Linked DNA regions of Homo sapiens: all the other regions are linked to region 7. Evidence: fine-mapped expression QTL. A gene starts in region 7. Each other region holds a variant in brackets. All regions are shown on one strand. Distances are between the middles of the regions.

The links.
Region 1: its variant is fine-mapped to the expression of SLC66A3 in tibial artery (GTEx, PIP 0.93).
Region 2: its variant is fine-mapped to the expression of SLC66A3 in monocytes (TOPMed, PIP above 0.99). The same link has a PIP of 0.9 or more in T cells.
Region 3: its variant is fine-mapped to the expression of SLC66A3 in whole blood (INTERVAL, PIP above 0.99).
Region 4: its variant is fine-mapped to the expression of SLC66A3 in lung (TOPMed, PIP 0.97).
Region 5: its variant is fine-mapped to the expression of SLC66A3 in lung (TOPMed, PIP above 0.99).
Region 6: its variant is fine-mapped to the expression of SLC66A3 in whole blood (TOPMed, PIP above 0.99).

Annotation. Positions count from the first base shown.
Region 1 is chr2:11,292,333-11,296,400 of GRCh38, reverse strand. The region is part of intron 1 of ROCK2 (Rho associated coiled-coil containing protein kinase 2); the gene reads left to right. Among named protein-coding and RNA genes, the nearest start is that of ROCK2, 50 kb to the left of the region's middle. The variant C/T (reference allele first, on the strand shown) is at 2,248.
Region 2 is chr2:11,186,597-11,190,664 of GRCh38, reverse strand. The region is part of intron 32 of ROCK2 (Rho associated coiled-coil containing protein kinase 2); the gene reads left to right. Among named protein-coding and RNA genes, the nearest start is that of SLC66A3, 33 kb to the right of the region's middle. The variant G/A (reference allele first, on the strand shown) is at 1,973.
Region 3 is chr2:11,326,935-11,331,002 of GRCh38, reverse strand. All of the region lies in intron 1 of ROCK2 (Rho associated coiled-coil containing protein kinase 2), which reads left to right. Among named protein-coding and RNA genes, the nearest start is that of ROCK2, 16 kb to the left of the region's middle. The variant G/TG (reference allele first, on the strand shown) is at 1,903.
Region 4 is chr2:11,359,739-11,363,806 of GRCh38, reverse strand. All of the region lies in intron 2 of PPIAP60 (peptidylprolyl isomerase A pseudogene 60), which reads right to left. Among named protein-coding and RNA genes, the nearest start is that of PPIAP60, 10 kb to the right of the region's middle. The variant G/A (reference allele first, on the strand shown) is at 2,031.
Region 5 is chr2:11,625,365-11,629,432 of GRCh38, reverse strand. GREB1 (growth regulating estrogen receptor binding 1) reads right to left here. Exons shown (of 33, transcript NM_014668.4): 25 at 2,329-2,471. Among named protein-coding and RNA genes, the nearest start is that of NTSR2, 43 kb to the left of the region's middle. The variant C/T (reference allele first, on the strand shown) is at 2,277.
Region 6 is chr2:11,223,587-11,227,654 of GRCh38, reverse strand. ROCK2 (Rho associated coiled-coil containing protein kinase 2) reads left to right here. Exons shown (of 33, transcript NM_004850.5): 6 at 257-401; 7 at 3,195-3,333. Among named protein-coding and RNA genes, the nearest start is that of SLC66A3, 70 kb to the right of the region's middle. The variant T/C (reference allele first, on the strand shown) is at 2,359.
Region 7 is chr2:11,153,905-11,157,972 of GRCh38, reverse strand. It overlaps SLC66A3 (solute carrier family 66 member 3), which reads right to left and starts at 2,506. Exons shown (of 7, transcript NM_152391.5): 1 at 2,284-2,506. The coding sequence starts at 2,426. It also overlaps a transcript of CIMIP5 not described here. RefSeq lists silencers at 2,090-2,329, 2,440-2,919.

The DNA of each region.
Region 1 (4,068 bases), 140 kb before region 7:
ACTAGAAACAGGCTGGGAAGACTGTTTCTTGTCATTAAGTGTGAATATGACCAAACTGTTTTACCTTCTAATAAACAAAACTTTATCTGTTTGTTGTATCTTTTCAAAATTTAAGAAATACTGGAATAGCTCTATATTCAGAGTAGCTTAGCTATCTATCTACTTAACTGTATATCCACAAATATTTTACAGACAAATGTTGCTTTGTAATTTAGTTGGCCATTGTCATCTCCAGCATTCTTAGTTACTAGATAGACTTTATAGGAAAAGTTGTTCCTCCACCATCTTGCCCCTTCAGCTCCAAAATGTCCATGAAGTGTAGGTTATTCTGCTTTGAGACCCTTTGTTTTCTCTCTCTCTCTCTCTCTCTCTCTCTCTCTCTCTCTCTCTCTCTCCTCTCTCTCTCTCTCCTCTCTCTCTCTCTCTCTCTCTCTTTTGTTTTTTGAGATGGAATCTCGCTCTGTCACCCAGGCTGGAGTGCAGTGGCGCGATCTCGGCTCACTGCAAGCTCCGCCTCTTGGGTTTAAGTGATTGTCCTGCCTCGGCCTTCCAAGTAGCTGGGATTACAGGCGTGTACCACCACGCCTGGCTAATCTTTGTATTTTTAGTAGAGACGGGGTTTCACCATGTTGGCCAGGCAGGTGTCAAACTCCTGACCTCAGGTGATCCACCCTCCTTGGCCTCCCAAATAGTTGGGATTACAGGCGTGAGCCATCATGCCAGGCCTTCTCTTAAGGTAGTCTGGTCTTCCCTGGAGTATCTGTAATGGAGCACTATATAAACAGATCCTGCCATCAGTGTATTTAAAGTACTGCTGCTGAACGATATTATGAATATCAAAATATTGAAGCCATATAATTATTCTGTGTACTGTGAGCACCAAATAGGAAAATTAATAAAACATAAAACCAGCAGGCCTTTTGGGGGTATTTTTCTTGCATGTATGTGTTATATCCTGGATGAGATTTTTTTTTTTTGCCCTAAAGTCTATCTGTGATACTTAACTGTACAAGTTTCAAATATGGAAAATACTTTTTAAAAAGTCTAACTTGCCTACAATCAGAATAACAACTCTAATTTTATCTGGCCAGTAGTTTCTCAGTTGAATACCAATATTAAATTAAGAATAGGATTCAGTCAGATGATGCATTACTTTTTCTAATATTTTATAATAGGTGTGTAAATTGCCTGTTTTCTGTTTTATAGGGAGTTTCAGGTAACATTGTATGTAATTTTTGAGGAGAGAAGCTTTTTTTAATAGAGGAAAAGATAAAATTGTTGATTTATAAGCCATAAGAAATCTAGTAATGCAGGCTGGGCACAGTGGCTCACACCTGTAATCCTAGCACTTTGGGAGGCCAAGGCGGGTGGATCACCTGAGTTCAGGAGTTCGAGACCAACCTGGGCAACATGATGAAACCCCGTCTCTACTAAAAATACAAAAAAGTAGCCGGGCATAGTGGTATGCGCCTGTAGTCCCAGCTCCTCTGGAGGCTGAGACACAAGAATCACTTGAGGTGGAGGAGGAGGTGGAGGTGGAGGTTGCGGTGAGCTGACATCATGGCACTGCACTCCAGCCTGGGCAACAGAGCAAGGCTCTGTCTCAAAAAAGAAAAATAGTAATACAAATATAATTTGATCTTAATTTTATTCATGTGTTTCTAAACAATATGTTACATTATGTATTACACAAATAAAATAATAAAACAATGTATTACATTATGAATGCAATTTGATTCATATCTTCCCATCAACTTAATATTTTAGAAGAAAAAAATCAGAATTTAATTTAAAAAATACCAATAATTATTCAAAGCAGCATTGGGCCCAATACCAACCTTAATGCTTCTAAGCTGTGCAGTTCTGGGAAATGGTTTAAGTTCTCCAAGCCAAATTTCAACTAAAAAATATGGTGATATTAAGACTGTATAATTAACACCATATAATTCCACCATATAATTAACACCATATAATTAACACCATATAATTCCACAGTCTGTTAGGAAAATTAAATAAGGAGATGTTATATAAAGTGTTTGGCATCATGTCTATCCAAGAACTCTGCAATAGCAGCTGCTTTATTATCAGCACAGAGCACTATCACCATTAGAACAATTACCAACTTTACATTTAATTCTTCTAAAACCTTGATCAAATCAATAATGTGATTTTTTGCTCTTTCCTTTCTTTCCTTTCTTTTCTTTCTCTCTCTCTTTGTCTTACTTTTTTTTAAATTTTTTTTTGAGA[C/T]GGGAGTCTCACTCTGTCACCCAGGCTGGAGTGCAGTGGCACGATCTCGGCTCACTGCAAGCTCCACCTCCCGGGTTCACGCCATTCTCCTGCCTCAGCCTTCCAAGTAGCTGGGACTACAGGCGCCCGCCACCATGCCTGGCTAATTTTTTGTATTTTTAGTAGAGACAAGTTTCACTGTGTTAGCCAGGATGGTCTCGATCTCCTGACCTCACGATCCTCCCGCCTCGGCCTCCCAGAGTGCTGGGATTACAGGTGTGAGCCACCGCGCCTGGCCCGTACGTTCTTTTAAAATCAGAATATGCTATCGTTAATGCCTCTCTCATTGTAAAGGTTCATTCTCTTTTTAGGACCACGGCTGAGGTTAGGGTGAAGCCATTCAGGCACTTGGAACAAAATTTGAGGGAGAACCCTAAAAAGCCACAGTAATCAAGATATTTTAATGTAATATTTTAAAAATTAATGCAAAGACTCACTATGAACAGAATATCAAACTCAAAATTTTAAAGAAAGGCAAAATCAGGAAGAGTACTGTGCCAAGCCATATTGGCATGTGAGGCAAAAAGGAAAAATTAATAATACTGGTCCTATCTTGCCATGCTGAGCCATGTTAGAGCCTGAGGCTCAAGGAAAAGTCATAAAAACATTCCTATTGCTCCTGTCTTTTGCCCTAGGAAAGTTTCTTTCCCTATGCCAGGCCTTGCTTTAACTATTTAAATAGCCAATTTTTAAAGAACTGCTCACCAGAATGATTTTATAGGCTATGAACTCTTTTTTACAAACGAGGGCCCTAGAAGTTGGGTGAAATTACTTGTGTAGGGTCACACAATTTTATCTTTTCCTCTATTAAGTTTTTCTCCTCAAAGTTACTGCTAACCTCTGAGTTGCTAAATTCTCAGTCCTCAATTAAGTTGACTTAGCCGTCCTCAATTTAAGTTGCCACTAAATGGCAGAACCGTGATGATGTAACCCAGGTTTCTTAACTTCTAGACTTCCTTTACTTTATTATCTCTTTATAAAACACATCTGTGTATTTGTTGGCTCATTACCCTGAGACTGGGTAATTTATAAAGAAAAGAGGTTTAACTGACTCACAGTTCCCTAGGCTGTACAGGAAGCGTGGCTGGAGAGGCCTCAGGAAACTTATAATCATGACAGAAAGCAAAGGGAAGCAGGCATATCTTACATGGCTGGGAAAGGAGGAAGAGGGAGAAGGGGGAGGTGCTACACACTTCTAAACCAGATCTCCTGAGTACTCACTCACTATCATGACAACAGGGAAAAGTCTTACCCTGTGATCCAATCACCTCCCACCAAGCCCCTCCTCCAACATTGGGGATTACAATTTGACATGAGATTTGGACAGGGACACAAAAATCCAAACCATATCAACTATTTTAGTTATGTATTTGTGTTTGGAGTTGAAATAGCAAACAGAGGAAATGTGTTACAAATTCATTTAAATAACATTTCCTGGTCACTAATCTGTACAGCAGATACACAGAAATATGCTTCCTATGCTCTGTAACTAACTGTTTCTTTGGTTGTCTTGACTTTAAAACTTGTTTGTTATTTAGTATTCTTTTAGAGGAATAATTTTACTAATTAAGTTTATTATTTTATTAACTTTTAAGTTCAATATTGTTTATAAGAGCATCATAAAATTTTAATTCTGTTACATATAAGCTATTCTGGCTTGGACACATTTTTTAACCTTTTAACCTTTAAGCTTCAGTTTCTGTGCCTACTAATGTAGGTATGACAATAGTATTAACTTATATGCTGTGAGGAATAAAATGTTAAATGCATGTATAGTGCTTT
Region 2 (4,068 bases), 33 kb before region 7:
TTGTTATATTTGTTTTTGATTAAGACTCCAGAAGGGGTTTGTCTAGATCTAGAACTATAATAACTCCAAATATCCTTTTGATACATTTTTTTCTTTTGTGCTATTTGACACATTAATGATTTCACTACATACGATAACATATATGGAATTAGTTTATGAGGCACGCTCCCAGTTATGTAACAGGCTGTTTTTATGTACACTGACTTACAAATACCTTCCTTTCCCAGTCCAAATCAGCATTATGGTCTATTTGAGAGTACATTTACTTTTGATTTTTGTTACTTTTTTTTTTTTTTTTAAAAAACTTCTGGCCTTGCCCTGTGAATCATTCTTCATTGATTTTTTTAAAAAACACATTTTGTCATAGCAACGGTAAGTAGTAAGGATTTCTTTCCCTCATATCTGCATGTAAATAAAACTAATATCAAAATTGACTGTAAAATGTGTAGTGTATATTTTGTGAAAAAATTCATTTAATACATTCTTTGAAATTCTAAACATAAAGGTGGTCACATTTATAATATAATTTGGATTTTGTTGTACATCTGCAACATTATTTCCATTGTTTTTGGCATTTGAGTCTCCATTGTTTCATGTACTCCTAGCATTGTGTCTGTATCTCTTACATGAATCAATCAACCTGCATTTTATTATTATTATTATTATTATTGAGACAGGGTCTCACTCTGTTGCCCAGGCTGGAGTGCAATGGCACGATCATGACTCACTGCAGCCTTGACCTCCCAGGCCCAACTGATTATTCTCCCACCTCAGCCTCCCAGAGTAGGTGGGACCACATACATGCACCATGACACCTGGCTAATTTTTTTTTGTTTTTATTTTCTGTAGAGATGGGGGTCTCCCTATGTTGCCCAGGCTGGTCTCAAATGCCTGGCCTTAAGCAATCCTCCCACCTCGGCCTCCCAAAGTGCTAGGATTACAGGCATGAGCCACCACGCCTGGCCAGTATTCCATTTTGAATGTCACATTTTAAGAGTCACTTATACAAATTGAATGGTATATAGATGAGAATAACAGAGGTTGCAGTATGTCATTTGAAAGTATTATGTAGCAAGCGAAGGAACTGAGGATATTTTGTTCTCTAAAGACATTATTTGAAAGTGTGAGAGATCATAAATAGCACTAAACAGTTAAAGACCTTTTCCTTGGAAGATGTATTAGAAGAAGAACCAATCAGAGAGGCAAATTGTAAATCTCATTGAGTAGCATGGTTCCAGGGAGGAATCAAGCCTCAGGCTGGATGGTTTTTAACATTCTACTGGACTAAAGCCCATTCAGTATACAAATGGGTGGAAATGGTAAAGGGTCATCCAAGAAAACAGAGGCACAGAATTGCTGGTGTGTCTCAGCAGTGATCTAACATCTAGCTGTTCATTTGAGTTTGTTTAATATTAGTCTTAGCATTAGTCAATCTAGCTTTAGTTGAACTAATTTGACATGGTATCCTTCTTAAAACAAAGTTTGGCTTTGTTAGATACATCAAATATAAAGTGAACCCATAAATGTTCACTTAACCATTTTTGGTAACTTTTCCTCTGTGTCTTTCTTTGTGGTCATCTGCCATTACATCATTACATCTTTTTCTCTTCTTTTTTCTTTTTTTTTGTGACATGACGTCTCACTCTGTCACCCAGGCTGGAGTGTAGTGGCGTGATCTCGGTTCACCCTAACCCTCCACCTTCCAGGTTCAAGCAATTCTCCTGCCTCAGCCTTCTGGGTAGTTGGGATTACAGACATGCACCCTACAAAATTAGCACTTTGGGAGGCCGAGGCAGGTGGATCACGTGGTCAGGAGATCGAGACCATCCTGGCTAACACAGTGAAACCCCATCTCTACTAAAAAATACAAAAAATTAGCTGGGCGTGGTGGCAGGCACTTGTAGTCCCAGCTACTCGGGAGGCTGAGGCAGGAGAATGGCGTGAACCCGGGAGGCGGAGCTTGTAGTGAGCC[G/A]AGATCACGCCACTGCACTCCAGCCTGGGCGACAGTGAGACTCCGTCTCAAAAAATAAAAATAAAAAAATAAAAATAAAATAAGACTAGAAATTAATTGACAGTTCATAAAAATAATGTATAGAAATGCTATTCTACAGGAATGTTTTCTTGGTACTTTTGAATTAAAATTAAAATGCCATACTGGAAAAGTAGGAAATTTGTGAATAAAATGCTAATTTTTGATGAAGACAATTTGGGGAGTCCTAATTTGTTTCAATGCAAGATAAAAATATACCAGTCTGGGCTGGGCGCGGTGGCTCACACCTGTAATCCCAGCACTTTGGGAGGCCAAGGCAGGTGGATCACCTGAGGTCAGGAGTTCAAGACAAGCCTGGCCAAGATGGTGAAACCCCATCTCTACTAAAAATACAAAAATTAGCCAGGCGTGGTGTCAGGCGCCTGTAATCCCAGCTACTGGGGAGGCTGAGGCAGAGAATTGCTTGAACCCAGGAGGTGGAGGTTGCAGTAAGCCGAGATCGCACCACTGCACTCCAACCTAGGCAACAGAGCGAGACTCCGTCACACAAAAAAAAAAAAAAAAAAAAAAATTATATACCAGTTTGGCTAGAGGGTATTTCTCTTTAATTATTTTTCTTTTAAAGATTTTTTTTAACGCAGTATTTAATGCATGCAGAAAAGTATAAAGCAAAAATGTAACAAATGCTCACTTACCGAGTTTTAAGAAGTGTAAAACATGGCAGCACAGTTAAAACTTAAAGGAGGAAGTAGCTATTGTGTCATTATTATCTTATCTTTGCTCTTCCTCATTTCTAAATGTTAAAGAATTAACAGTCTACTTGGGAAAATAATGAAGTTATATACAATTTGAAGTGTCAAAAATAAATCCATAGGTGAATATATACCTGATCTTGAATTGGGGAAGAACTTCCAAATAATAAAAGCAAAGAAAACAAAGCCAAAGATCAACTACCCCAAAAGTAAAGCCTTGTAAATTTAAAAAACACCATGTATTTCCAAAATATATGAGAAAGATGAGTTAGTATCTTCACATACGAAAAGTTCTTATAAATCATTGAGAAAAAAGATTGCCTCATCCCCATACAAAATTAATGAGGCGCATGCAGGCATTATTATGGAAATAGCTGTTAAATGTAAAAAAAAGTGATCAGCCTGATTACAGTAGTCCCCCTTTATCTCAAGGGATATGTAGTCCAAGACCCCCAGTGGATGCCTGGAATCACGAATAGTACTGGACCGTACACATACAATTTTTTAAAATCTGATAATGAAGACCATTAGTAAGTGACTAACAAGCATGGATATGCTGGACAAAGGGATGACTCACATCCCAGGCAGGACAGAGTGGGATGGCACAAGATGTCATCACGCTGTTTACAACGTTGGGCAGTTTAAAACTTCTAAGTTGTTTTGAGCTTTTCTATTTAATGTTTTCAGACTGTGGTTCACCACTGGTAACTTGAAACCATGGAAAGTGAAGACAAGGATATGGGGGGACTACTGTATTAAGAAATTAGCATTAAATTAAAACTATAACATAAAACCATTTTTCACCTGCCAAACTGGCACGGGTTAAGAAACGAAATGGGTACTTTTGTGGACTGCTGGTAGAACTCCAAATTAAATGCACTCTTTCCAAAGCATCTTTGACAATAAGTTTCGCAGGCCTGAACTATATCCCTGTTAATGGTGGAGACAGTCAAGCAACAGGCAATTACAGTACTATGTAAAATGCTGTTTATAATATAGGGATGAACAGAGCGCTTGGGGAAACGAGGGAAGCATGGAGAATTCTGCCTGAGGACATTAAGAAAGATCTCAAACAATGGAGGATGGATAATTTTACAAGCAGACAAATAAGGGAAAATCAGTTCCAAGCAAAATGTCATGTGCAGAGGTACAAAGTCATCAGAATTACTTATGTATTTGTAATTTTGTGTTGGCTTGGCGTTGGGAGAAGGCAAGGGTAGGGAGTGGTAAAAGATGATGTGACACTAGAGAGAAAGTCTGAACCCAACTGAAAAGCTCCATGTACACTGTGCTCAGGAGTTTTGATTTATAAGTAGAAGTCTTTCA
Region 3 (4,068 bases), 170 kb before region 7:
CTCCCTCCTCCTCTTTCCTTCTCCTCCCCCTCCTCCTCCCTCCTCCCTCCTCCCTCCCCCCTTCCTCCCTCCTCCTCTCCTCCTCCCTCCTCCTCTCTCTTCCTCCTCCCTCCTCCTCATTCCTCTTCCTCCCTCCTCCTCCCTCTTCCTCCCCCTCCTCCTCCCTCTTCCTCCCCCTCCTCCTCCCCTTCCTCCTCTCTCCTCCCTCCTCTCTCCTCCTCTTCCCTCCCTCCTCCTCCTCCCTCCTCCTCCTCCCTCCTCCCTCCTCATCTTCCCTCCTCCCTTGTCTTCCTCCTTCCTCCCCCTTCTCCTTTTTTTGAGACTTTTTTGAGACGCAGTCTCTGTCACCCAGGCTAGAGTACAGTGGTGAGATATCGGCTCACTGCAGCCTCCGCTTCTTGGGTTCTTAAAAGTTTTTCGTTTTAAAACCAAAAGGAAAAGAAAGTGTATTAGCACAGTTGTCATGAGCTTTGATGCCTACAAGATCTAGTGAAAAATGTGTTTTTGTATGTTGAAATCCCTGTAAAAGTATTTTGTATATTAAATATGAAAATATTAGTATGATTTTGAAAAATGTATCACCTTTTTCAGATAACTTTGTTGTTTTAGAGTTATAGTTTGTGGGATTTTTATCTCATGGCTAACAAAACTACATACCCTGTGGCCAAGGCACAATTCAATAACGTGGGGCTCTAGAGTGACATATAATAAAAGTATCTTTAAAGCCCTAAAGATTTATGACATTTTATCTTTTGAAATATTGTTTTCAAATAATTGCTGAATAGAAAGATAATTAGAAATGTGAAATCTGAAACTAGGTGATGCTTCTTTCACTGACTGAATATATTTCTGCAGTTATTTTTAGAAGAGTGTTATGGATGATTTAGAAACATTTTTATTGGAAGTATTTTTCCAGTTAGAAACATTTTACAATCTGGTGATGAGAATTCCTAATTCCATAATACCTCAGTGTTGTACAAGATGCTCCAGCATTTCTAAATATTTGAAAAAAATGCAATTAATTTGAGACTTCATGAGTCAGTTATGACATGTTCATGCTAAAAATATTCTCAGGCATTATTTCTTGCTGTAGCTTAAACGGAATATGCAACTCATGGTTGCAACATTTAAAATTAGAATATGGATAATGTTTATGTTGTTATATTCAGGTTAAAGAAGAATTTAATCACAAAAGCAAGAGAACATTTAAAGAATTTAATCACAAAAACGAGAAAACGCACCTAAAGGATTTTGCTGATAGTTTTGTAAAACAATTTCTGCTGCAAGCAATTTTTTTTTTTTGTAAAAATGGGGAGGCTGTAAAGTTATAAATTTTGAATGCTGGAAAACAGATTGTTTTCCATTTTTAAGACATTTCCATAATAGGAGAACAGCAGATGATACAAATAAAACTAAATTTAGAACTAATAAAAGGAAACTCTAGTACAAAATTGGCTTGTAAAATTTTCTTCTGAGGGAAGTCATAAAATATAACAGTGAATAAATTTTTAAGAAGTTACGGTTTTTTTTTTTTTTGGAGATGGGATTGTTACAAGCTTTTAGTATAGGGAAGTTTTGTCTTTCTGGATGATATAATGTAAATATTTGGTGTAGTGTTTTAATGTGCTTTCCCCTTCTTTTAAACAGAACTACTCAGTTTGACTCTAGTTACAACAGATCTGTGAAATAAAAGTTTAAAAATCTGAACAATGCCTTATTTCAAATGATTTTCTATTAATAAAATTCCACCAAAGTACATAAAGAGGATCCCTGTTTGATCTCATTAACATATGAAGGTTAAAATGAATTTTTTTCTTAAGAGTTTCCCCACCAAGGTAGTGAAGATGGGCAAAAAATGAAGGAAAATGACTTGAATTTTTAATTTCAAGTGTATTTTTTTTT[G/TG]TTTCTTTTTTTTGCATTTTTAAAAAAATTATTATTATACTTTAAGTTTTAGGGTACATGTGCACAGTGTGCAGGTTAGTTACATATGTATACATGTGCCATGCTGGTGTGCTGCACCCATTAACTCGTCATTTAGCATTAGGTATATCTCCTAATGCTATCCCTCCCCCCTCCCCTCACCCCACAACAGTCCCCAGAGTGTGATGTTCCCCTTCCTGTGTCCATGTGTTCTCATTGTTCAGTTCCCATCTATGAGTGAGAACATGTGGTGTTTGGTTTTTTGTCCTTGCGATAGTTTACTGAGAATGATGATTTCCAATTTCATCCATGTCTGTACAAAGGACATGAGCTCATCATTTTTTATGGCTGCATAGTATTCCATGGTGTATATGTGCCACATTTTCTTAATCCAGTCTGTCATTGTTGGACATTTGGGTTGGTTCCAAGTCTTTGCTGTTGTGAATAGTTTCAAGTGTATTTTTAAAAGAGAGAGTAGTATAGTGGAAAGAACATTGGATTTGGAGTCAGAAAAGCTAAGACTGGTGTTAATTAATGAGATGTTCTAGTGATTATCTTCTTGATTGTGAGTAATTTATAGGACTATTTGCCTTCAAGGAGTTGTGAAGAATACAGTGAGAAGCTAACTATATGTGCTAGTGTTCTGTAAACTGTACAGAACTTTAGCTTTTTTACAGACAGTTGAAAAACTATGTGTATAACAGCCTATATTGTTTGTGTCTCTCAATGTATGTGCATACAAAATCAACCCTCTGATATTAGCCTGTTTCCCCCCCCAAATGTAGCATATTATTTGGCACATATTAGCTTCACTAAGTGTTAAATAAATGAATGAAAATTGTTGGCATTTTTGTGTTCTTAATTCACTGCGTGTAATTAGTCGCATTGGGGTTTTGGATGGATCTTTACAATCTAAGAGAATAGTAAGACAAAGTCTTGGTGGGGTTTATGGCTCATAGATGATGGACTTTGGGGATAGAAGTTTCATATCAGAGATGTGGAAGGGAAGAGAGTGAGCAGGACCAGGGATAGAGGCAGTCTTCTTTTCACTGATAATCTGAATATACCATGTTCTCTATACTCTTTGCCCTTGTGTGTACCTGGATTGCTCTGTCTCCTTCTCTGTTTTGTCAGCTTATCACAAAAACAAAAACAAAATAAAACAAACTTCATTTTTTAAATTACAAAAGTAACATATGCCCCTTTAAAAACGGACAGTTGGCCGGGCTTGGTGGCTCACACCTCTAATCCCAGTGCTTTGGGAGGCCAAGGTGGGCAGATAGCTTGAGCCCAGGAGTTGGAGACCAGCCTGGGCAACACAGTGAAACCCTGTCTCTACAAAAAATACAAAAATTAGCCAAGTGTGGTGGTGTGCACCTGTAGTCCCAGCTTCTTGAGAGTCTGAGGTGGAAGGATTGCTTGAGCTGGGGAGGTGGAGATTTCAGTGAGCTGAGATTATACCATTGCACTCTAGCCTGGGTGACAGAATGAGACTCCCCCTCTGCCTCTTTCTTGGCCATGTTCTCTTTCTCATTGAAGACACAGGCATGTGGCTCACAATCTTTCCCCATAAGGCTTTGCCACCATTCGTGGTGAATTTAGAGTTTATGTGAACAGAGGGCCCAGGACTCTGGCTTTATAGTTTCCCAATTTCATCATCTCCAGTTGTCTTTCTTTTCGCTTAATTCATTCACTTAATCCCATGGAGCTACTCTGGACCTCACCATTACCTGAAAATTGGCTTTACCTTTGAGGTCTTAAATTTAAAACACTGTCCTGGCTCTGACTGTAAACTTTTGAGATCTGTAGTTCCTTGACATCTCTAAATGGTTCCTTTACTAGCAGGCAGGAACCCATTTTCCATCACTTTAAACTTCTTGCCAGAATCCTCAGTGTCCTTGTCCTCATGAATTTTCATCGTATGTATCTGGCAAAACCTAAGTTCTGGATCAGTTTGTCTCTTTGGCCAACAAAAAAAGCATTTGTTGAGCAGTGATGGATAAAAATCACACACAATTACCCAGATTAGTGGTACTGCAAATTCATGGTCTCTAGTCCCTGAAAGAGCTGTCAGGGCTGCATTGCAATTCTTTTATTCTCCATAGGGGCTATTTTAATCATTCTTTTCTTTCTTTAAACTTAAGAAAG
Region 4 (4,068 bases), 210 kb before region 7:
ACCTCTCCTCTGATGTCCCACTGAAACGTTTTCTCCGTGCAAAGCCCCATCTGTTTCTCCTAGACAAAGTGAGCAAGCCTGCCTCTGTGGGCCCCTGAACCTTGCTCCTCTCTCCTCACGGCTCCTAGTGTGTACACCCGCGGTGGCTCACGCCTGTAATCCCAGCACTTTGGGGGGCCGAGGTGGGCGGATCACGAGGTCAGGAGATCGAGACCATCCTGGCCAACACGGTGAAACCCCGTCTCTACTAAAAATACAAAAAAATTAGCCTGGTGTGGTGGCATGCGCCTGCAGTCCCAGCTACTCGGGAGGCTGAGGCAGGAGAACGGCATGAACCCGGGAGGCGGAGCTTGCAGTGAGTCGAGATTGCGCCACTGTACTCCAGCCTGGGCAACAGAGCGAAACTCCGCCTCAAAAAAAAAAAAAAAAAAAAAAAAATCTGCTCTCTGACTCAACTTTGATCACTGATAGTACTGGGACTTTTGTCTTCTTCCGTTTGTTATTCCCAACATCTAGTACAGCCTCTGCCACCAACTGATATTCAATAAATATTTATTGAATGAATGAATGAGGGCATGAATTAAGAAAGTTTAGTTTCACGCTTAGAGAAACATCACGCCAGGCTTCAGGGCCAACGGGAATCCATCCCAATTCCTGCTACAGACTTACTGATCCTGTCAGTTGTAATCAGTCAGAGAAATCATCCCAGCATGCTGGAACTAGGTAGAAACCTTGTTTTGCACATGATGAAACTGAGGTCGTAAATGTGAAGGTTGCACAGCAAATTCCATCAGAAGTTGTCTGAGATAGCAAGACTGATACCCATGCATATCAAGAGTCATGAATCACCAAGATCTCATCCCTAATTCTAGTGCTGTGTCATACATTATTTTACTTTTCAACAAAATAATGATGATTCCTTAAAATTGTGTAGCACTTTATAACTTACAAAGTCCTGTAAAAAAAAAAAAAAGACCTCTGAACTAGCTATTTGTGGTTAAGTCACTTGCCAGAATCATTCAGTTCTTAAATGATGGATCCAGGGCTAGGACTCAAGTTTTTGCTCTATGCCCAGTGTACTCCTCAAGATCCAATGTCTGCCTCCAACATTACAATAAACGGTGGTTAAATAATGATTCTAGGCTCACTCCTGGGAAAACATTATCATTTCTAATCAATATAATCATTTCCTATTTCTAAGAATTTTCTGAAGGCGACATAGACCAGACTTGTCAAACTTTTACATAAGAGAGCTGATAAGATCGAAGCATGGCTATAAGAAGGAACCAGAGTGTCAGGTCTGTGTGTGTGTCTGTGTGTGTGCACGTGCATGTGTGCATGGATGTGTAGTGTGTCAGTGACTCTGCATGTGGAATACTTGGTAAAGGCTTTAGGAACTCAAAAGTGTGGGTGGAAACAAAATAAGCAAATCTCCAATGCACAGCATCTGCATAGAGTGTGACCTTGATAAATACTTGCCAATGAATTAATATGCCCTGTGTTAAAAAATTCTCATATAATTGTTGTGCCCTTAGCCAGTATTTCCATAGAATGACTTTTAACAATGTAAATATGTCTTCCAAATAACTAAATTTATTCACTCATGCTTTCATCCAACAACGAACGCCTGGCCAGGTGCGGTGGCTCACACCTGTAATCCCAGCACTCTGGAAGGCCAAGGCGGGTGGATCACCTGAGGTCAGGAGTTTGAGACCAGCCTGCCCAACGTGGTGAAACCCCGACTCTACTAAAAATACAAAAATCAGCCAGGCAGAGTGGCAAGCACCTGTAATCCTAGCTACTTGGGAGGCTGAGGCACAAGAATCACTTGAACCCGGGAGGTGGAGGTTGCAGTGAGCCAAGGACGCGCCACTGCACTCCAGCCTGGGTGACAGAGTGAGACTTTCTCTCAAAAAAATAATAATAATAGTAATAGCCAGGCGCCGTGACTCACGCCTGTAATCCCAGCACTTTGGGAGGCTGAGGAGGGCAGATCACAAGGTCAGGAGATCAAGACCATCCTGGCTAAC[G/A]CGGTGAAACCCCGTCTCTACTAAAAATACAAAACATTAGCGGGGCGTGGTGGTGGGAGACTGTAGTCCCAGCTACTTGGGAGGCTGAGGCAGGAGAATGGTGTGAACCTGGGAGGCGGAACTTGCAGTGAGCCGAGATCGCGCCACTGCACTCCAGCCTGGGCGGCAGAGCAAGACTCCATCTCAAAAATAAATAAATAAATCATCATCATAATAATAATGGAGGCCTATAGGTGCCAGACGCACAGTTTCCCCATAACACAGCAGGAAACTAAACAGACAGACCAACGTCTACTCTCATGGAGTTTACATTTTTGGGGGATGCTAGACATGGATAATAACCACTCGGTTATATATTATATTAGGTGATAAGTGGTATAAAAAAATATGGTTAGGCCAGGTGCGGTGGCTCACGCCTGTAATCCCAGCACTTTGGGAGGCTGAGGTGGGTGGATCACGAGGTCAAGAGATCGAGACCAGCCTGGCTAAAATGGTGAAACCCCGTCTCTACTAAAAAAATACAAAAAAAAAAAAAAAATAGCCAGGCGTGGTGGCGGGTGCCTGTGGTCCCATCTACTTGGGAGGCTGAGGCAGGAGAATGGCGTGAACCCGGGAGACGGAGCTTGCAGTGAGCCGGGATCATGCCACTGTAATCCAGCCTGGGTGACAGAGCGAGACTCCATCTCAAAAAAAAAAAAAGAAAAAGAAAAGAAAAAAGAAAAATATGGTAAGAAAAGGGGCTTGGGCGTGGGGTGGCTAGGAGTGGGGTGGGGTTGCAATTTGAATCAAGGGGTTCAGGAAGTGACATTTGAACAAAGACCTGTAGGTCGGGTGCGGTGGCTCACGCCGGTAATCCCAGCACTCTGGGAGGCCAAGGCAGGTGGATCACTTGAGGTCAGGAGTTCAAGACCAGCCTGGCCAACATGGCGAAACCCTGTCTCTACTGAAAATAGAAAAATTAGCTAGACATGGTGGCACACAACTGTAGTCCCAGCTACTGGGGAGGCTGAGGCAGAAGAATCACTTGAACCCAGGAGGCAGAGGTTGCAGTGAGCTGAGATCATGCCACTGCACTCCAGCCTGGGTGACAGAACGAGACTCCATCACAAAAACACACAAAAAATGAACAAAGACCTGAGAAGAAGGGGCACAAACTGTGAGAATATCTTGGGGAAAATCTTAACCTTTTGAACAAACACATAATTTTTAAAACTTTGTTTTTGTTTTTAAATAGCTTATATACACTTGGCTGCCCTGCCCCCCTTTTTTTTTTCCTTGAGACAGGGTCTTGCTCTGTCACCCAGGCTCCAGGCTGAAGTGCAGTGGTGTGATCACGGCTCACTGCAACCTCTGCCTCCCAGGCTCAGGTGATCCTCCCACCTCAGCCTCTTGAGTAGCTGAGACCATAAGCACGTACTACCATGCCGAGCTAATTTTTGTATTTTTTGTAGAGAGAGGGTTTCACCATGTTGTCAAGGCTGGTCTCAAAGTCCTAGGCTCAAGTGATCCACCTGCCACAGCCTCCCGAAGTACTGGGATTACAGGCATGAGCCACTGCACCCAGCCTACACGTGGCTGCCTTCTGAGAGGATCTAGCAGGTAGTTTAACATGTTCCTGATAATTCGGGCATCTCTGTGATTGTCAATGCTGGGCACCATGTAGTGCTGTCCATGGAGGTGGAGATGGTGGAAGCTCGGAGGACTAGAGGACTATTTGCCCCCCCGCTAGAGGGCTCCAATCTGTTTTTCTTCTGCATTAATTCTATGGCATCCACTCCTCTCACACCCTATTATTTCTGGTAGTGTCCCAGCATCACTACGCCATGCGTTTTGTCTGCTTTTTCGTAATACATCATTGGTTTGTTAGGATTGGGTCTAGAAGATAAAGACTTGAGCAAAAGGCTAAAATGCAGTGCACAGGCTTTATGACATCTGCTCTGCCTCTCTGCCTATTCACATAGGACATTTTTTGCTTATTTCCTTACTCTCAATTTCCTTTCTGACTGTCTGAATGCCAAATAATTAAATCCCTGATTTG
Region 5 (4,068 bases), 470 kb before region 7:
TTTACAGGTGTGAAAACTGACATTCAGAGACCTTGGGCTCTGTCACCAAGTCACCAAGTCTGGCTGCGCCCTTAGTCACCTCCTCCAGCCTCCACTTCCCAGGAGCCTCACACCCCACATCTGTGCACGTGCTGCTCTGGGTGTGACCTCCAGCGCAGCTTTGCCCTCAGCTTGAACGTCCTCTTACGACCCCACCGACCCACGGCCCTTCCTACTGACATCCCCTCCTAGCATGTGCTATGCATGCATCCAGGGTCTGCAGGGAAGGAGGCAGACGAGCACACACTGCTTTAATCTCTGCCATGGCTCTTCTAGACCCACAGAGCCCTTTCTTTGGGAGCAGAGATGAGGGAGAAAGGGATTTTGACTCGGGGAGGCAGTTAAGGAGGACACACTGAGGCAGTTTCATAAAAAAGGTCAAGGGAGCCTTGGGAGGCAAAGGAAGAGAAAACAGAACGAGCAGGTGCAGGCCACATGGAGAGGGCAGCCAGGGGGCCACGCGGCCTCTGCACCCGCACCAGCTGGTTTCAAGCCCCCTCACCGTCCCAGGCATGCTCCTCTTCCACTGTGGCCCCCAGACCTGCGCACCCCTGAGAACACAGGCCAGGCACAGCCCAGCCGGCTGCCTCTCCTCCTCCTCTGCACTCTGGTGTCTGTTGATGCAGCCCGAGGTCCTGATGGCACTACCCACTCCTGACACTGACAGGGATGAGTAGGGACTGACACCCTTCAGTCCCTTTCAGTTCCCTACATTTCAAAATCAAGGACGTGTTTTCATGTATGTTTTTGTTTGCCTTAAAAGAAAAACTACATCTCCAAGAAACAAAATGTTAGGAGAGTTTATCTGGAACAAATGGGATTACTGATTATTTTGACCCTTAAAAAATTGCTCATATGTTCTTTCTTTCATCTACAGTACAATTGCACACTCAAACAATGAGTGCTGCGTCCCCGGCAGCCAAGCTCAAGGCCAGGCAGACAGGTGCTGTTTCCCTCTGTAAAAGGGATGGAAAGAGAGGCCAGTGCTCTTGCCTCAGGCCTTTCTGAAAGCAGCCCAGGACATCAGCTACCCTACATGCCTCTGCTCCCCAGCCAGGCATCTGACTAGCTCCCACCAACTCTGGCTCTCTCCCTCCACCCCTCTCTCCCTTGCTCGGGTCTGAAATGAAAAGAAATATTCAATGTAAAATAAATCCTCTGCCCTGTTTATAAATAACCAGCCTCACAGGCCCTCCATACACCTCCATGGGACTAAGAGACCAGTCTAAACACAGCTCTGCCCACACTGGGCTCCACTTGGAGTTCCCACTGAGAGAGTCCTCGTTCCTCCCCACAGTGCCCACCAGGCATTTTGTGGTCTGGCCTCTGCCTGCCCTCCGAGTTTCGTGGCTGAGTGTACCCACCCCAAAGTCTGGGTTCCAGAAACACCCAACCCACATCACTTCCCATCCCCTGGAAACCCCACCTCCCCTCTCCCACACATGCTGTCCCTCTCCCTTCATCTTATTAATTCTTGGCACCTTGGCAAATTCTTATTAATTCTTCCAAATCTTCTCTCTTCCGCTCCCGACCCAAACAGGATCCTCATTTATAAAACAGGGACAATGAAATTTTAGTGTGAAGTAAATAGGACACTAGATAGGACAGCTCCCATCCAGCACACCTTGGGTGGCTTGCAGGCGTGGCTTCAGGTGACCCACCAGGGCCTGAGGCAGCCAGAGCCCTGGGTCAGGAGCCTTATCCATTTCTATGTGTCCAGGATAAATATTTTCTATTGCATAAAAGGTTGGGAGAGACTGATATATAAAAAGTGCCTAGGCACATTGCCTGGCATGCAGTAGGTGCTCAATAAATGCAAATTCCTCCTCTTATCAATGGATTTCTGTGCCTCAACCATAGTACTCCTTTTGCCTGCTTCATATCGTTAGGTTTTGCTTATGTGCACATCTCCCTTCTAGACTGAGCATGGAGGATGGGGACAGAGTTGATTCAGCTCTGCAGCCCCAGTGCCTGGTACAGAATAAGCACCTGGTGAGCATCTGTTGCATTGGACTAACTTCTGAAAGCATTGGGACCTAAAGATGACGACCACCTCCACGGTCGGGTAACTTGGCCACTGATAAACACACAACCCCAGGAGAACCGTGGTGCTCTAGTTCCAGCAATCATTTCACAGACAATTGAAGGGAACAGAGGATGCAAGCAGACCAGGAAGCCAGGGCTTCCAGAACTCTCTATCTCCCACTCTGGAATGAAAGCGTGAGAGAGCAGGGGAA[C/T]GGACAATGTGAGCCAAGGTGAAATGCCTGGTGGGGAACTGCTGGGGCCTACCTGGTAGCGGGGGTGGAAGCCCATGTACTGGTGGCACTGCTCACAGTGGTGGTAAGTGTTGTACGCTGCGTACTTGGACAGTCTCATCCGTGCCGTCTGACGCCGCACATAAAGGTCCTCCGGCTTCCGGGACATCCCTCTGTCTGCACCAAATTCCCCAGGATTAAAAAGCAGCAGGGAGCAAAGCAAACATTATCCCCTGCCTGCTCAAACAGAAACCAAAAATGCTCAAATGACCAGACAACAGGATTCTGTCTGGTTGGGGAGGACTGCCTCTCACCTCCCTGGGCCCTGACGTGACAGCTGGTCAAAGGAGACAACGAAGGGCCACAAAGTGTCAGTGGAATAAACTAATTAAGGCACTGTCCATATCATGTCTTACTGTAGACTAAAAATATTTCATCAGCACCTATGTAAAGATCCGCTATACAACAATTTAAATCGATTGCCAACTTAACATGCCAGCTCTGAATGCAGATGAACTGCCCCTTGTTTTTCTGTTTTTGTTTGTTTTTTGGAGACAAGGTCTTGCTCTGTCGCTCAGGCTGGAGTACAGTGGCACAATCTCAGCTCACTGCAACCTCCGCCTCGCAGGTTCAAGTGATTCTCCTGCCTCAGTCTCCTGAGTAGCTGGGATTACAGGTGCACGCCACCAAACCTGGCTAATTTTTGCATTTTTTGTAGAGACGGGGTTTTGCCATGTTAGCCAGGCTGGTCTTGAACTCCTGACCTCAGGTGATCCACCCACCTCAGCCTCCCAAAGTGCTGAGATTACAGGCGTGAGCCACCACACCCGGCCCCTGCTTGTTTTTCAAATGACCTCGCCGATTAAGATTTTAACACTCAGCCTTCATTAGAGACTGGCCTACGAGAAGGATCCTCAGTGCAAGGGATCTATTCTGAGAGCAAGGACAATAAAGTTGTTGGTTTGAAATGGAGACTGGTGGGTCACTGATATGGTTTGTCTGTGTCCCCACCCAAATCTACCTTGAATTGTAGCTCCCATAATTCTTACATGTTGTGGGAGGGACCTGATGGGAGATAACTGAATCATGGGGGCAGTTTCCCTAATACTGTTCTCATGGTACTGAATAATTTTCACGAGATGCAATGGTTTTCTAAGGGGTTTCCCCTTTTGCTGGGCTCTCACTCTCTCTTGCCTGCTGCTATATAAGACGTGCCTTTCACCTTCCACCACGATTGTGAAGCCTCCCCAGCCACGTGGAACTGTGAGTCAATTAAGCCTCTTTTTCTTTATAAATTACCCAGTCTCAGGTATGTCTTTATCAGCAGCGTGAAACGGACTAACACAGTCATTTCCTTTCTCACGGCATTTACCAAATTTTTCTAGTCTAAGTTTATAATCGCAATGGCCCCGGTACACTGCAGCGCCAGCACACCATGGATGTTGGGGATCCCTGAGGGAGGGAAAAATCAAGACACCGGGGGAGGAGAGGTGAACACGTGTACTCGTTTTGATAACTCCAAATTAATAAGTAAACATACACGTCTTTTATCCTCTATTAACCACAGCCTTCAGAATATTCCAATGGTGACAAATCAGCAAGGGTGTCGTCATTGTCACTTAGCACTTCCTGAGCAACACTCTTCAATTCACAGGTTTTGCATTCCTCCCTTCCTTATACAGGGAGGTGGTGACCTCAGTTCTGTACTAGGTATGGCAGGTTAATTCATCACCACCTGATTTCATGCCTAACAAAATCCAGCTCATCCCTTTAA
Region 6 (4,068 bases), 70 kb before region 7:
AACTTTTTTCTTCTTTCATTGAGGAAGCCTCCTGTATTTTAGAGTTCACAGTTTATTCCTATCTCCCATAATTTAGGCATTTTAATGCATTTTCCAGTGTATTTATTCTCTGTATCCTGAAGTCATGTCAGCAGTGAAGTTCTGTTGGTTAGCAATATGTAATCATTGTATATCTAGTAATAAATGGATTCATTGCATTTATAAGTGTGTGTTTTTACACTGAACTGTTTTTTCTTTATCTCTCCTGTTCATGCAGACAGGCATGGTACATTGTGATACAGCAGTTGGAACACCGGATTATATATCACCTGAGGTTCTGAAATCACAAGGGGGTGATGGTTTCTATGGGCGAGAATGTGATTGGTGGTCTGTAGGTGTTTTCCTTTATGAGATGCTAGTGGGTAAGTAAATATTTTAACTTCTTTTTTCAAAATGCTTCTTATAATACTTTATTTCAGTCAAGAATTTGAGAATATAAGGAAATTAATTGCCTTTGTCGTAGGGAAGAATTAGATTTCTGGAAACTTTGAATTAGTAGTATCTGATAGGGCAGACTGTTAATTGGAAAATTAATACCAAGCCTGATACTGGCATGGTGATTAAATAGAATAAGTAGAATGTAAAAAGAATTAAAAATATATCAGACATTTTTGAATTAAAATATTAGAACAAGAAGCAAGTTTACAGCTTCAGTGGGCCTTCATTCTAAGATTTTCCTTCTTTTTTTTTTTTTTTTTTTTTTCTGAGGCAGGGTCTCGCTCTGTTGCCCAGGCTGGAGTGCAGTGGCATGAATGTGGCTCACTGCAGCCTTGACCTTCTAGGCTCAAGTGATCATCCCATTTTGCCTCCCGAGTAGCTAGGATTACAGGCACATGCCACTAAACCCGGCTGATTTTTCTCATTTTTTGTAGGGAGTGGTCTCATCATGTTGCCCAGGCTAGTTTCAAACTCCTGACCTCAAGTGTTACTCCCACCTCAGCCTCCCAAAGTGCTGGGATTTTAGGCATGAACCACCACACCTAGCCCTCTAAGATTTTCTTGATCAATCATATTTGTTATAATATTTAAATATAAGACTTAATATTTGTCCCAATAGTAGTAGAGAAGTAAAAATCTCTTTAGTTTATGTAATTACATAATTGATTTCGTAAACAACTGTATTCCTTCCATTTACTTCTTGCATATATATTGTTTGTAATTCTCGTGAAATAAATTATAAATACAGTGTTTACCATTTGATTATCAAGATAAATATATTTTGTAATAACATTTCAGTTTTAGAAAACTCAGAGACAGATTTAGTTATTTCTTCTTTTTTATGACCAAATCAAAATTTGAAAGGCTGAAGTATTTCAAAACTTTCTTTACATCATAGATTTCATTCCTAATGTTTCCCATTTGTAAGTACTGGGGTCATAAAAATACTAGTACCTTCTGGCTAAGGAAGCCAGTGACGTGGCATGGGGATGAGGGTTGAAAATGTAGTTAAATCCACTTTCCAAGGCAAGTATGTCAAGGCTAATAACATAATATGGAATTAATTAGAGTTAAAAATATACTTTTTAGAATTAGAGAATATATTTTCTAAAAGATGAGCCTAAAAGAAATGGTAGTGTAAAACCTGTATGATAAAAGACTATGGTTATTGCTAAAAAATCAGAAATTTTCGGTAAATTGCAAATTTAAATAATAATTACTCTTGAACTTTTTTGTGGCATAAATTGTTTTCTCTTGATGACTGTCTTGTGTATGTAGCATTGATCTTGTTATGCTTTGTTTCATGTCATAGTATGACCTACTTTATTTTGGGCCTTTCAAAGTGAGTCTGTTTGTACGCATCATATGGTCCCATGTAGCTGTCCGTTCTCCCATCTCTGGCCTAGGTTGTGTCTTGTAATCTTTTGAAAATAGAGTATATTCTCTTTTTTGCCTAGACACGCTTTCCTAGGGATTTACAAAATAAGGTACTTTAGAGGAAGTAATTTGGCTTATTTGATGAAGAGGCCATTTAAATTCTCACGACTGCCAGGCTGGGTGGTGCTAGCTCAGCTCTTCAGGAGGCTGAGGCAGGAAGATCACTTGAGCCCAGGAGCTCAAGGCCAGCCTGGGGAACATATGAGATACTGTGTCTAAAAAAGTAATAATAAAAGAGTAAAATTAAAATAAATAAAAAATTTTTAACATAAGAAAGTTTAAAAAGTTAAAAAATAAATTAAAAAATAAAAAATAAAATCTTGAATTCATCACTTCCCTCCACCTTTCTTTGAACACAAACAAAAATAACTACCTGAAGACATTTTTTGAAGTTTTGGATTGGCTGATTTGGGAAAGTCAGGTTTTCATTAAAGTTACTTGTAG[T/C]GTAGGTGTACTGGCAGAGCCTGTAACACTTGTGGCTTTAGCTGAGTACTGGCCAAAATGGTGCCTTCAACATTTTCCATCTTTATACTTGCTTCAGTGCATCTATTACAGTCATTAGTAAGAACACTGCATGGGGAGACCATTTCTTCCCTCTTTCAACTCTAGCTATATGTCATTTTAAGCTAGTCACAGTCTGTCTCTCTGGGCCTGACTTCCTCTTATGTAAAATAATAGAGCTGGTTTAACTCTTGCAGCAGCCCTGTCTGGCCTATCATGATGTAAATGATTTAAATCTGTGCTGTCCAGTGTGGTGACCATTGGTTACAACATGACTTAAAATGTGGCTAGTATAACTAGGGAATTGTGTTTTTCATTTTATTTAATTCATTTTAACTTTAAATTGCCACCTATAGCTAGTGGCAACTGTGTTGTATAACATATCTCTAGAGAATGATTTCAAAATGCTGATCCAGCCCAAGCATTAAAGGACCCTGACTGATCTGACCCCACATAGGAACTCTTTCTCTTGGACTATTCAGTAAAACATTTCCTCTCTTAAATTAAAAAAAAAAAAAACTCAACAAATTCGGGAGTTATCATTGATTTTATTTTGCTTTTAAGGGATGAGGGATCATTGGTGGTGTTAAATTTTAAATATATTCTTTGATTTAGAATATAACAATATGTCTGTTGTTTTGACTGGGACTCTGTGCCCGTAGAATATTTGTTCTTCCCTGCATGTGACAAATTTAAACTTAACATATTTAAGTACTAGGTGAAAAGTGTTTCCTTTGCATTCTCTGTTACATTCAGTATCTTCTTTCTTGAAATTTTAGGGGATACTCCATTTTATGCGGATTCACTTGTAGGAACATATAGCAAAATTATGGATCATAAGAATTCACTGTGTTTCCCTGAAGATGCAGAAATTTCCAAACATGCAAAGAATCTCATCTGTGCTTTCTTAACAGATAGGTAATGTACATTGAATTTCTTTGTAGAGAAGCCCTTTATGTTAAATTTATAGAAATAAAAGCATGCCTAGCTTATTAACATATGAAATCAGTCTGCCTCTCATTACCCAAGTAGCATCTAATTCTGGGTTAGCCTTTTCCTTCTGCTAAGCCTGGTGTTGGGCTACCTTGTTGTTATGTGTGTACAGCCCAGTTGTAATCGAACTCTAACCTTAACCCTCATGTCTAAAAAGGAAAAAATAGAACGTGGTAAAACAATGGATTTGAAAGAAATAAAACTTTCGTGTTGTTCACATTTTATCCTCCAAGCTGGTTATTCCATATTACTCTTATATAACTTTTGAGAGTATTTTGTGTAGATAAATACTCAACAGGTTATAATCTTAAAAACTATTTGTGTTAGACTTGGGAGTGCTTCCTTCCCAACCCTTTTTAATTTGCATTTGAATATGAGCAAGACTATCCTGGAAATTCCATACTTTTAAAAACAAAATAGATGAACAAAGGTGTGAAAACCTGCCCCCAAAAGATAAGCTAGAAAACTATTTGATTTCTCTTCTTTGTTCACCCCATTCCATTTTTTTCTAATGTCCCGTTTTATATTTGTGATAGGAGTCATCCTGTCAAAGGACCAACATATACAAGAGGATGCTCACACCCTCGTTCAAACTTACACATCAGCTTTATGATCTTGGGGAAATTATTTTTACTTTTTTGGGAAATAATTTTACTCATC
Region 7 (4,068 bases):
GAGGGCCGCAGTCCATGGAAGGCTGCAGGCAGGGCAGGTTGGATGAATCTTGTGCTCCAGGAGGCTCCTGGCTGCAGAGAGCAGGGAGGCAGAGCCCAGCAGAGCCCTGGAGGCAGGAGAAGCAGCAAGGTTGGGAACTTGCGAGGGGGAAGGCTCCAGCTACAAGGAATGCCCCTGGGTGGCAGAGGCAGGTCCCTGGGCAGAGGCTCCTGCCCTTCACACCAAGCCACACTAAAAAGGCTTTTCTGGCATTATTAAGACACACTTCATGCTCCAATTGACTCAGTGCTCTCAAAACCAGGCTCTTAGTTTGCTCAAATGGAGACCCAAAGAGGGCCCGTGCCCTCCAGGTGGCTGACTGCGACAGCCCTGGGGTTCCTTCTGCTCTAACTCCGGCTGCTGCCTGATCTGGTCAGGGGCCCGGGGGCCCAGCTGGCAAGCATGGCCAGCCCCAGGTGGGCCTCCCAGGCAAGGCTGGGAAGGGCATGAGGGAGGCAGGCAGGGAGACAGGAGGGCCAGGAGGATGGGTCCTGACACAGCCAAGCCCATTTTACAGAAGTCTGTGTGCCTGGCCCTGGCCCTGGCTTGGAGGCTGCAGAGCTGGTGCACCAGCCCCGACAGAGCCCCCTTTACCTGCACGTGATCAACTGCAAGACCCTTAGACAGGCCAGCAGGGATGGCAGCAAGCTGCTGCCCCACCCAACCCTTGAGCTCCCATGCCCAGGAAGATCCTTCCACTGCCAGAGGTCTAGCTTTCACTAAGGTGAGCTGGGAGAGGTGACAGCTGGCAGATCTAATAGGAGCCCTCACCTGCGTATCTCTGAGGGTTTGCATTTTTCAAGCAATGCTGCAAAAGTGGTGGAAATGCAGGCCTAGGGGCTGGCGGCAGGAGGGAATCTATAGACTCTACAGACAGCCTGGCTTCTTTTCCTTCATGGGTCCAGCTTCAGCTTCCCCAGCTCAGGGACCTAGCAAGGGGCCGAGGCCAAATCCCACTCCTGGCTTTCATGCCCTTGTCCCCTCTCCCACCTGAACAGTCACCACAGCCACTTCCAGCCTGTGTCCTTTGCCACAACCTCATCGCTCCAGCCTCTCTGCTCCCAGCCTGGTGGTGGCACCAACCTGAAACGCATGCTGCCCACCTCCCCTGGGTGCCTCTCAACCCTGCCATCCAGCCTGGGACCCCCCCCTCCCCACCCCGCAGGGTAGAGTCACTCACAAGCCTGGAAGAGGTCACAGTCCCTCCCACTGCAAGCCTTTCCCAAAAATTTCCCCTCAAAGCCCCCTATTGGATGACTGTGCCCAGGGCCGGGCTCCATAGGGCCGGCGCGGGGTCCAAAGCCTGAGTGGGACCCCTCACCCTCCCACACCTGAGGTCTCCTCTTTCTCCCCCGCACCCCTTGGCTTCTTCCCATCCTGTATGCCGCACCCCCCACCCCGCCCACCAGGAAGGCTTGTGTGGAGGACCAGGCTTCAGACCCCACTGGGTGATGGCGGGGGGCAAAGGGGAAGGCCTGGCCTGGCCAGGGGGAAGGGGCGAGACCACTAGGTTGAGGTATGTGTTTTCCTATTGTTGGGGCTCAAAAATGATACCCCAAAAGTTTGGCGCTCTGGCATGATGAATACTTTGAATAGGAAAGCCTTAGAAGCTGCCTCAGAATCAAGGATTTAACGACCTTTCCGTCACCCCTTCCCAACTGCAGAGACTCTCCAACTTCCTTACAGATGACTAAGGAAACTTCTTTCTACAAGAAATGCAATTGTCTTAAGACCCTCTCCCAAGGAATCTCATTAAATAACCAGGAAAGATTCCCCACCAATCACCGGGAGAAGAGAAGAGATTCATACATTCTTAGTTCAACCCCTTATTTCACAGGTGAGGAAACCGAGGCCCGAGAACGAGGTTGACGGTGCGTGGTGAGTTTAGGGACAATGAATATGACAGCCTCGAGGTGCAAATGGCCTTGCTCAGGGCCAGCAGGTTTTGTCACTAGCGCACCAAGGGCTGCCTCCGCTGGGTCTGTTTTCTCATCTGTAAAATGGGCGTGCGCAATCAATTCGTGCCACGCGGGGCTTGGTGAGAAACAATGTACGCGGGTGGCGGGTGGCCGTGGGAAGAGCACCCCGAGCCCCTAGGCTCCCTAGTTCACCCTCGGCCGCCCAGCTGCGACGCCGGCGCGCGGGGATCATCCCCGCCCTACTTCGAGCCGAGGCTCTCCTGGGCTCCCAGCCGGCAGCAGCTGCGAGGGGGCAGGAGGCAGCCCCGGCCGCCCCGGGCCTTACCCTGCCAGCTCCAGAAGTAAACTCGGAAGGCTGAGGCCCCGCGCGCTGCGCGCCGCTAGCACAGCGGAGATCTGCGGCAGCTTCAGCGCGGCGCACACGCCCAGCGTGCTCCAGTTACACAGCCCCAGCAGCGCCGCCTCCATAGCGCCACGGGCGCGGGCACCTGGGCGGCCGCAGCGAGAAGGGACCGCTCAGCCTCGGCGGCGCAGCTCTGCCGAAGCCTTCCGCCTTCCCGGGATCCGCCCGGGACCACCCGGCCAGGGCCCGCCCCTCCGCGCGCCGCCAGGCCCCGGACCCGCCTCGCTCCGCCCCTCCCCTGGACGCACCCCGCCCCCGGGCCCGCCCCGCCCCTCCCGCCCGGGCCCGCCCCGCCCCGCCCCTCCCGCCCGGGCCCGCCCCGCCCCCTGGCCAGCCTCATCTCGCCTCGCCTACGGGCCCGCCCGGGCTCGCTCAGTCCTCGGACTACCCTCATCTCGCCCCGCCCCCAGATTCGCCCCCTCCCGGTCGGCCTCACCTAGCCCAATCCCGTGGCCAACCTCGCCTCGCCCCGCCCCTCCTCGCCCCGCCCCTCCCCTCCTAGCCCCGCCCCGGGCGACAGTCCCACCCTGGCCTGCGGGCTCCACCAGCAGCTGCTTCGCATTTCCGCGTTCTTGCCACCCGATAGTTTAGCCGCCGCCGGGAGCCGCCCTGGAAGTCCGGCTTTTCCACGGGTTGGGTGGACCGAGAGGCAAATGGCCCCGGGGGATGGGCCATTCTGCCGGGATTTTTCCCTCCCTGCAAGTGTTTTAGTTTCTCTCACTAAGCATTTCAGGAGTTAAAGCCTCCTGCTTAAGGGCTGAGTGCACCCTCCCGACTTACAGGTGGGGAACCAGGCTGGAGAGACTTTCTGGGACCAGAGCCCCAGGGTCGCCTCATTTGTGCCCTTTCAGAGCACGCGGCCTGTCTCCAGCCTGGGACTGAAGGCTTCCCTCCTAGCGGCGTGGGCCCTGAGGGGCCACCGGAAGCCTTGAACTTGAGCACTTCACAGTGAAACTGTTTCTTAAGGATTTCTCCTGATAAAGTAACTTGGACGTGGCCGTCTAAGCCACAAACTGAGGGAAAGGGAAGGACGCATTTTCCAACCTCTGAAAATCGCCTGTGTATTAGGGCCTGGTTATGAAGCAGGCAAAAAAGCACCAAAATGCAATGCCAGAATCCACGATCCCTGGTTTTGTGCCATAAATCTCAGCCGGGAAGTGTGAGGGACGGGAGCTGGGTCAGCTTCGGAGTTCGGAATTCTGGCCGAGGCTCTTTCTCTCCAGCCTCACCGGCCCATCACCTCCGCCTATGGAAAAAAAAAAACAGGTGCTGAGTCCTGCCTCCCAAGTCTAAATGAGAAAAGGATGTTCAGAAGGGAACCCTTAAAGGAAACGGCTTGGACCTGCCCTGGCTAGATCGATACTGATCGTTATTGACCCCGCGAAGCGGGAAGATTGCTTGAGGCCAGGAGTTCAAGACCAGCCTGAGCAACATAGGGAAACCCCCGCCTCTACTAAAAATACAAAAATTAGCCGAGCGTGGTGGCGCGTGCCTGTGGTCCCAGCTACTCGGGAGGCTGAGACAGGAGGATGGCTTGAACCCAGGAGGCGGAGGTTGCAGTGAGTCGAGATCGCGCCACTTCACTCTAGCCTGGGAGACAGAGCCAGACCCTGTCTCAAAAATAAATAAATAATATGTATATAAATTTTTTGAAGAAGAAAATAGAGAAGAGCTTTTTTTTTTTTTTGAGACGGAGTTTCACTCTTG